2 separate regions of the Homo sapiens genome follow, and region 1 is linked to region 2. Evidence: fine-mapped expression QTL. A gene starts in region 2. The other region holds a variant in brackets. All regions are shown on one strand. Distances are from middle to middle. Region 1 overlaps CAPN5 (calpain 5). Region 2 holds the start of CAPN5 (calpain 5).

Region 1 (4,382 bases), 53 kb after region 2:
AGCAGATAAAAACACGGCAGAGCTCCTTGCCTTTAGAAAGAGTTTCTTCCAAAGGCCTTTCTCTTACATGTTCACGGTTAATTCACTGCCCCCTGCCCCCACCAGCTCCCTGGAGGCGTTCACAGTGTGCAGTGACCATAGCAACACCCTGGCCACCGCAGCAGGCTCACCATGGGGTTCCCACCATCCACTTACTCAGGCCTCTCAACAGCCATGGAAGATCCTGGATGCAGATGTGCTTTATAAACTGTACAGGGCAGCAGACAGTAGTTATTAACACCATTCACAATAGTAACAGCCAGCGTTTGCCAGTGCGTGCTCTGTCAGCCGAAAGTTGCACTGCCTGCTTTGATTGCATTACCTAATTCCTTCACTAGCTCTGAGATGGGCACCTGCTGTTAGATTCAGCCTCATTTTACAGGTGAGGAAACAGGTCAAAAGAGAGGTTAAGGGTCTGTGCAATGCCATGCCTGTGCCCTTGTGTGGGCTTAGCTCCCCTCTCAAAGCCAGCTGTGTTCTCTCACCTCTGGGCCATATGGACATATTAGGTTGTTGGGCTGGGGGGCCAAGAGCCTGGGGAGGTGTGGGGGAGGTACCCTGCTCAGCCCCTCCCCACATCCAGGATGACCTTCGAGGACGTGTGCCGGTACTTCACGGACATCATCAAGTGCCGCGTGATCAACACATCCCACCTGAGCATCCACAAGACGTGGGAGGAGGCCCGGCTGCATGGCGCCTGGACGCTGCATGAGGACCCGCGACAGAACCGCGGTGGCGGCTGCATCAACCACAAGGACACCTTCTTCCAGAACCCACAGGTGGGCGTTCTCAGGAACCCCCACCCTGCCCTGTAGCAGCTGCGGGGTGCCTTGCCACTGTCCTGCCAGGGACTCCTGCATGACCTTGGGTAATCCCTGTCCTTCCTTGGGCCTCAGCAAACCTGTCTGTACAGTGGGGGTTAGATGGGCACATCCGTCCCATCTGGGGGTCATGAAGCCCCCAGCCTCACAATCTAACCTGCAGATGGTAAAAATGAGGAAACCGCGGCTCTGAGGGACATTTGGGTGTCTTGTTCTGAGCTACAGGGACACTTAGAGGCTGAGCCAGGGACTCAGCCCCTTGTTTCCACAACAGCACAATTCTGTCCCTTCTGGGAACTTGGCTGGGCTGGGCTTCCCCACGGGGCCTCTCCCCACAGCCTCCTCAGTCTGACCCGTGGCGCTGCTTAGCCCTGGTGCTTGGTGTGCCTCTGTTGAGCACCACCTGTGTGCCAGGCTCTGTGCAGAGTGGCCACCCTGGCATTGAGTTTCCCCAGCCTTCATGCAGGGTAGCCATTGCAGGCATTGGTAGGCCCACCTCACAGCAGAGGGACCAAGGCGCAGAGAGGTGCTGTGACTGGTCCAGGCTCTGGAGTCTGAGCTTCCGGGAGCCAGCCAGCCCATGCCTGGTGTGGTCTCATTGCAGTGTCTCTCTCTCTCCTTGGCCACACCTGCAGTACATCTTCGAAGTCAAGAAGCCAGAAGATGAAGTCCTGATCTGCATCCAGCAGCGGCCAAAGCGGTCTACGCGCCGGGAGGGCAAGGGTGAGAACCTGGCCATTGGCTTTGACATCTACAAGGTGAGGCCAGCCGGGTCCCCTGCCGTGGGTGGGGAGAGGGAGGGAGCTGGAGTTTGGACTGCCCATGCCTGAGGAAGAACGCTCTAGAACACCTTGGTCACTGCCGCTGCCCTGGCTGCCGTGGCAGACATTGTGAGGATGCCGTGGCATGGGCCCCACTTGAATATTCACAGAGGGCCCAGCCTGCCCAGCCTTGGCTTCTGTGGGAGCTCTCAGCCTGATTTCTTTCTGCCTAAGACCCACAGGCCTGGGATGTTTGGTGGATGAGGAAGGGGAAGATTACTGGTGGTTGGGGCCGGGCCCTGGGAGGCTCTGGGCATCTACTGGGCCCCCACTGCTCCTCCCTCAGGCCTCAGGGCCCCTTGCAGCCCCTTAGCCTTCCTGCATTGGAGGCCTTGCTGGGCACCAGGAGGAGGCATCCTTGAGCATAGCCAGGTGGGGTCACCTATGGCCGCACCGCCTGGCCTGGAACCTGAGGCCTTCCACGTGTTGTGATGCCCAGTGTGTGGTGACAGTCAGCATGGCGGGACCCCATGTGCCTGTCAGACCTTGAGAACGGAATGAAGCCACCGGGCCCTGCAGAGGCTGGGTAC[A/G]TGCTGAGTCCTTGGCATCTGATGTGCCTGGCCACGCCGTGGCACTTTGTTTATACTCTTGTGCTGGTACATTCATTGCATGCTAGTGTCTTGTGACATATTGTTGTGACTTTGCCATGTGACGATCTTCACTAGTGTGACCAGAACACTTTTTTCAGGATTGTCAGGCAGGTCCTGGCAGCTGGTGATGGCATTTCGTGGACAGGTGCTGTGACCTCTGCAGATCCTGATACTTGGTTGTGCTGTTGGAGTCAGAAACCCCACTGACATTGTTACCAGGGGGATTCCTATTGCCCTCTATTTTTTTTGTTTGTTTGTTTTACAGAGGGTCTTGCTCTGTAACCCAGACCAGAGGGCAGTGGTGCTGTCATAGCTCATTACAGTCTCAAACTCCTGGACTCAAACGATCCTCCCACCTCAGTCTCCCTAGTAGTTGGGACTATAGGTGAACACCACCATGCCTGGCTAATTTTTAAGTTTTTTGTAGAGCTGGGGTCTCGCTTTGTTGCCCATGCTGACCTTGAACGTCCAGCTTCAAGTGTTCCTCCCACCTTGGCCTCCCAAAGCGCTGGGATTACAGGCATGAGCCACTGCGCCCAGCCTCCTTTAATAGTTTTTATTGAGATATAATTCACAGAGCATGCAATTCAGCCATGTAAAGTATACAATCTAATGACTTTTGTGTGATCAGAGTTTATGCAACCATCACCACAATCAACTGTAGAACATTTTCATCTCCCCAAAAGAAACCCACTCCCTTTAACCACCACCACCCATTCCCATTGACCTCTTCCCTTCAGCCCTGGGCAAACACGAATCCGCTTCTGTTATTATAGATTTGCCTGTTCCGGACATTTCATATAAAGGGATTCCATCGTCCCTTCCATGGTGGTGAGGGGGAGGCGGGGTGGGCCAGGGTGTTGTAGGGTGTGTCTCCGCGTGGCCCAGCCCCTCCCGCCTCCTGCAGGTGGAGGAGAACCGCCAGTACCGCATGCACAGCCTGCAGCACAAGGCCGCCAGCTCCATCTACATCAACTCACGCAGCGTCTTCCTGCGCACCGACCAGCCCGAGGGCCGCTATGTCATCATCCCCACAACCTTCGAGCCAGGCCACACTGGCGAGTTCCTGCTCCGAGTCTTCACTGATGTGCCCTCCAACTGCCGGTACTTGGGGGCTGGCTTGAGGCCAGTGTGGGTGGGAGTGACATTCACACTGGGCCAACCAGGAACCTGCAGCCTCAGAGATGCTCAGTGTCTCTGGGCCTCCAGCCACTCTGGGCTGATACCAGTGCCCATCTCCTTCCCTTCTCTTCCCTTGTTCCCCTGTCCCAGCATCCCTGGCCATGACTAGGAACAGCTTCTTGTATGTGCACTGCACTCTACAGTTGACAAAGAAGCTTTCACTCATCTTGATCTTCCTGCATCCCTGAGTGGGAGGCCTGACTCCCGCACTTTACCAGTGAGATTCAGGGGCCGAGGTTAGAAGGGTTGTCTGAGGTCATGCAGCCAGCGGTGGAGATGGGCTGGGCCACCCAGCCTGCCTGGTTCCAGGGTTGGGTCTTGTCACCACAATTTCCTGTCCCATGGGGGTGGCTCTGGGCTCCAGTGGACTGCTGAAGCTCTCTCAGTCCTTGCTGGGGCATAGACCCTGTGCGTCCCGCACTGCCCTCCACTGTGATACACAGCCCAGGCTCGGTGTCCCCTGAAGGACAGGTGAGCTCTGCCCACGTGCCAGAGCCAGGAGGCAGCTTGTGGCATGTGGAGTCAGACGGCTCAGGGTCCTGCCGGCCCAGGCTCCCCAGCTTTCCAGCTGTTTGGGCAAGCCCTTCACCTGGGTGAGCCTGCTGCTTCCTCAGCTGTGACATGGGCACCATAATAGCCTTTGCGGGGCTTTGCAGGGATTAGGAATCACCCATAACGCCAGCAGGGGGCTTGGCACACAGCAGGTGCTCAGTAAGGTGCCTTTCCCCTGGGGAAGGATGGGGTACCCTTGATAGGGATAGAGAAGGCAGGAAGCCCACAGGGCTTGGAGCTGGGGACTGCCCATGGGGATTTGCTCAGGACTAAATGAAATCAAGTTTGGGCTAAATACTGCTTCTCTTCCCTTCCCACTTCCTGAACCCCCTCTTCACCCCTGTCTTCCTGGCCCTTCTCCATCACTCCCCTCTCCC
Region 2 (4,382 bases):
GCCAGTAACTGGCAGAGTGAGGACTGGAGCCCAGATCTACTTGGCTCTACCAAGTGCTGCTGTCTTCCTGACAATGACCCTTGGCCTCTGCCCTCCAGGAACTTTGGCCTTGCAGGGGAAACCTTGGCCCCACCAGCAACTCTGAGAGACGCAGCCTGAGAAGGGCCATAGGTGAGGGGTGGATGCTGAGCAAGGGAGCTTTGGGATGCTGCAGCACAGGGAGGAAGGAAGAGTCCTTCAGACGGCCACAGATCAGCACGGGCATGGTTTCAGGTGGGGAGAGTAGAGCCCCTGAAGTGACTTTTGAAGGGCTGGTGAAGCTGCTGCTCCCAGTACAGGGCATGGAATAAGGTTAGGGGAGATGGGGGAGTCAGATGGGGTGCAGTCTTAGAACACTCTTCTATGGGTGGCGGGTCTCAGCTGCATATGTGAAAGTCTTCTTTGGTTGGATAGGAGGCTCCTGAGGGGGCTGGGGCTACTCTTAAGGGAGAAGCATCTGGGTGGCCTGGGACAGAGGCAGGGAGGTTGGGGAGAAGCTAGAGAAGTCCAGGTGACTGAGAGTGAGGTGAGGCAGAGACTCCTCTTAGTGGAAATAAAGGAAAATCATGAGTCTTTTCAGGGGGAATTTCAGGCAGCTAGCTAGCTTTGAGAAGTAAATGAGCACCTTGACAAGCAAGAAGGTAATTGAAGCTTCAAACAAGGGCCACCCAAATAAGTTAGAGCCACAAGATGTCTGGTTCCCTATAGAAACTAAAGATAACATCTTGACCTATGTCCCTGAATTGTTTTTCACAGCTGTCACTTAGGCCTCAGATAAGGGGAAACTGAGGGCTGTTCTTTAAATTTCTTCCCAAGGGTTCTGTAAAGAGTCACACCCATAAGCCAATGCTTAACTCTCCTATCTGTGGACCCCAGGTTTTTAGACAGTCTTGCTTCCTAAGCCAATTGCAAATCACAGAATCTCTGAATCCACCTATGACCCTGCCTCAAAATGTCTCACCTTTTTGGGCCAAGCCAATGTATAGCTCCAGAGTATTTATTTATGACTTTGCCTATAACCTCTGTCTCCCCACCTTTAAAAAGCCTTACATGTAAACCATTGGGGAGTACGGGTCTTAAGCATTAGCCGACCTATTCTCCTTGCTTGGCACCCTGCAATAAATGCCTCCCTTTCTGCCGCTGCAAATCCTGGTGTCAGTGTTTGGCTTTGCTGCACTGGGTGGGCGGACCCAAGTTTGTTTCGGTAACACAAGAGGTTGACGAAATCATTAACTGAGACTTCGAAACAAATTGGAGGCGGAGAATGAACGGGCCTGAGACGCTCCACCAGCGAGTGGGCCGATGGGCTCATCAGATCAGATGGGCGTCTGTCCTGCTGCCTCAGGGCGGGGGGTGGTGGCACCCCTGAGCTCCTACTGTAGGCAAGAACTAGTCACTCCTAAACCTTCTCTATCGGATTCCCCAAGCGGCCTGGGGTGGGTAGAGATTATAGTCCCCGTTTTACAGATCAGGAAATGCAGGCTCCGTGCCATCCCAGGGCATTCCGGTAGCCAGTCACGGACAGAGAGTCAAACATGAGCCCGAGCCCGGGAGCCCATGGCAGCACGGGATTAAGTCCTCAACACGGGCCGGGGTCAGTTTTCCCATCTGACAGAGGCCCTCTGCTGCTCACAGGGGCCTGGGCTCCCACTTCTCCATCCGAACACTTGGGATGGATGTGAAGGTGGAGCCCGGAAAGGGAGGGGCGCCGCCCACCAAGTCCTGGTTCTGGCAGGCACCCTGGCCCTTGCGGGTCCTCGGTACTACACGCCGGCCCCAAGTCAGCCGCGGCCCCGGCCCGCCCTGTGGGGGCTGAACCCCAGCCCCGGCCCGATCCCTCACGGTGCAGCCAGCCCTTGGGAGGCTGCCCATGGGGATGCGCACCAACCGCAGACAGATAGGCTGGGAAGGAGAGAGAACGAGGGCCCGACCGAGCCGGTAGAGGCGGTGGGTGCCGCTAGGGGCCCCAAGTCCGCGTTCAACACAGGGGCTGGAATGAGACCGCTCCTCTGAGCGGCCGCCCACCGCACCAGTGCGCATGGGCGCACCCGGCCACCGGGCCGCCCACCCCGCCCCACGGGAGACCACGCCTCCGGCTCGCAACGGGCAAATGGGCGGAGGCCGCGGGCGGGGCGGGGCGGAGCCGGGCCCAGCTGGCCGAACCCGGGGAATGCGAGCGCCAGCCCCCGCCGCAGGCCAGTCCCAGCTGGATCTCCGGCCAGAGCCCGAGGCTGCTGCGCCGGGCGGCTGCAGCCTCCGCTCCAGCGCCCGCGCCGTGCCCTGCATCCCGGGAGCCCGGCTGGACCCGCGGCGGCTCGGCCGGTAGGAGGCGGGCGGAGGGAGGCGTGTGCTTCTGTGTGTGTGTGTGTGTGTGTTTCGGGGGGGTGTGTGCGGGTGCAGCGCGGGCCAGTGATTGCTCCGGGACCACGAATCAGTGGAGGGGGCTGCACCTCCCGCGGGCCCGGGGGGAAAGGAAGTGAGCGCTGGCTGGGGGGCGGGGTCCTGGAGCATCCGCCTGGGCCCCCTCGGCTCGTCCCCACCCCCACCCCCGGCGAGGAGTCTTTTTTTCACCTCCCTCTGGGTGTCTCCGAGTCGTTTTCCTAGTGCGGACGCGCTGGAAGCGCCTAACACCCGGGGCTAGACTGTCACTTCCTCTCATCTTCCTTACAGTTCCCCCCTTCTCTTCCCTGCTTAACCCCCCTTTCATCCCTGCAATCCACCAACCCCTTCTGGGTGCTCCACCACCCAGGCCTGGGGAAGGGGCAGGGCCGAGGCTCCTACTGCCCCAGCCTATCCGCTTCTTGGCACTACTCCCCAGGTTGAAAGGGGGCTTTTCTCCTTGACTGCAGGGCGGGCGCACGTGTGTGTGTGTGTGTGTGTGTGTGTGTGTGTGTGTGTTGCGGGAGTGTGGGGGAGTGGTCTGGGAGGGAATGGATCTTTGTTTCTCAGACCTCAGAGTTCCCACCTCTGTTCCTTTGCGTTGGGGGTCTCGGAAGACTGGCCTAGGGGACCAGAGGCGAAATAGGACAAAAGATCATTAACAGGTGCGACGTTCTCTCTCCCAGTCATTTCATGTGGTGGGATTCACCCCCAAGTTCCATACAGATCAGAAGAGTGGGGCACAGAGAAGCGAAGTCAGCTGCCCTCTCAGGATTGCTGAGCCAGAATTTGAACCCGGGTCCGCCTGGCTCTCATCCCAGAATCTTCTCCCTACACCTGTGGTTTAGAGAGAAAAGTACTGAGGGCGACTATCCCAGGACTCAGGGGAAAGAGAGATCTGGGCAGACTTCTTGGAAGAGAGGGGCTTACGGGTGAGGCTCAGCCAACTCAATGAGTCTGAGGCCTGCTGGGGGAACCACTGTGTTTTGCAAGGATTGACACCTCCCAGGGTCCTCGGGCTGGTCCTTGCTCCTGTCCCCAGGGTCTGGGGGTGGGGTGGTGTGGCTGCCTTTGCCTCCTGGGCAGGGTATGGTGGGCCCAGCTGCTGCTGCAGGCCAGGTCAGGCTAGTTGCCAGCACACAGAGGTGCTCAGGCGGGGTCTTTGCCCTGAGGAGCCTCTCTTCTGACAAGACAGGCAGTGGGTCCACAGATAAGGCCCTGTCCAGAGTTGTACCCAGTGCTGGGAGCACAAGACAGGGACTGATGGGTGCCCGGGAGCTGGGGATGAGTTCACTTGCAGATTCGTTGGGGCTGGGTCTTGAAATCCACCAAGCAGAAAAGAAAAGGCAGGTCATTGCAGCCCCAAGGAACAGCATGAGTAAAGGCCTGGCAGTGTGAAAATGAATGCTGGTGGGGTGGATTGCGGATTAGATAGGTCAGATGTGTGTCCAAGAAGGGCCACCTTTGGCTGCAGTAGTGGGTGGGCTTCCACTGAGGGCTATAAGGAGGAGGCCAAAGCAGGGAGAGGGCCCTCCCTTCTGCTCTCCTCTGCTCCCCACCCAGGGCTAGGCTTGGCAGGGGAGGAGGGACCCTGATAAAGTTTCCCAGAGCAGGGGTGCTGGGGGCAGGAGGTGCCCAGGGGCTAAGGGGCTACACAGGGTCCCAGTGCTGGGGGAAGGTAGGTGGGGCTGCCTCTGTGAGATGGGGACCACCATTGGGGGTGGAGCAGGTTGGGAGTAAGTTGACTGTTGGACAGGGTGGTTGTGAGATGCCTGTGGGTTTTTGTGGGTGACATCTGGGACACTGCTCCCAGGCCAGCACTGTCTCTGTCTGCTTCTGCGCCTGCTTTCCTGGCAGGCTGTCAGATCAGCCCTGGAGTCCTGGTCCCCAAACAGGAGGCCTCCTGCGCCCTCAGTGGGCACCCTCTCCTACCTGCAGGGCCTAAATCATGTGTCTGTTCTTTC

The links. PIP is the estimated chance that this variant, and not a neighbour inherited with it, causes the effect.
Region 1: its variant is fine-mapped to the expression of CAPN5 in whole blood (INTERVAL, PIP above 0.99).

What each region holds. Positions count from the first base shown.
Region 1 is chr11:77,117,535-77,121,916 of GRCh38, forward strand. CAPN5 (calpain 5) reads left to right here. Exons shown (of 13, transcript NM_004055.5): 8 at 623-818; 9 at 1,496-1,618; 10 at 3,179-3,375. Among named protein-coding and RNA genes, the nearest start is that of MYO7A, 8.5 kb to the right of the region's middle. The variant A/G (reference allele first, on the strand shown) is at 2,212.
Region 2 is chr11:77,064,734-77,069,115 of GRCh38, forward strand. It overlaps CAPN5 (calpain 5), which reads left to right and starts at 2,238. Exons shown (of 13, transcript NM_004055.5): 1 at 2,238-2,361. RefSeq lists an enhancer at 1,397-1,897 and a silencer at 1,754-2,443.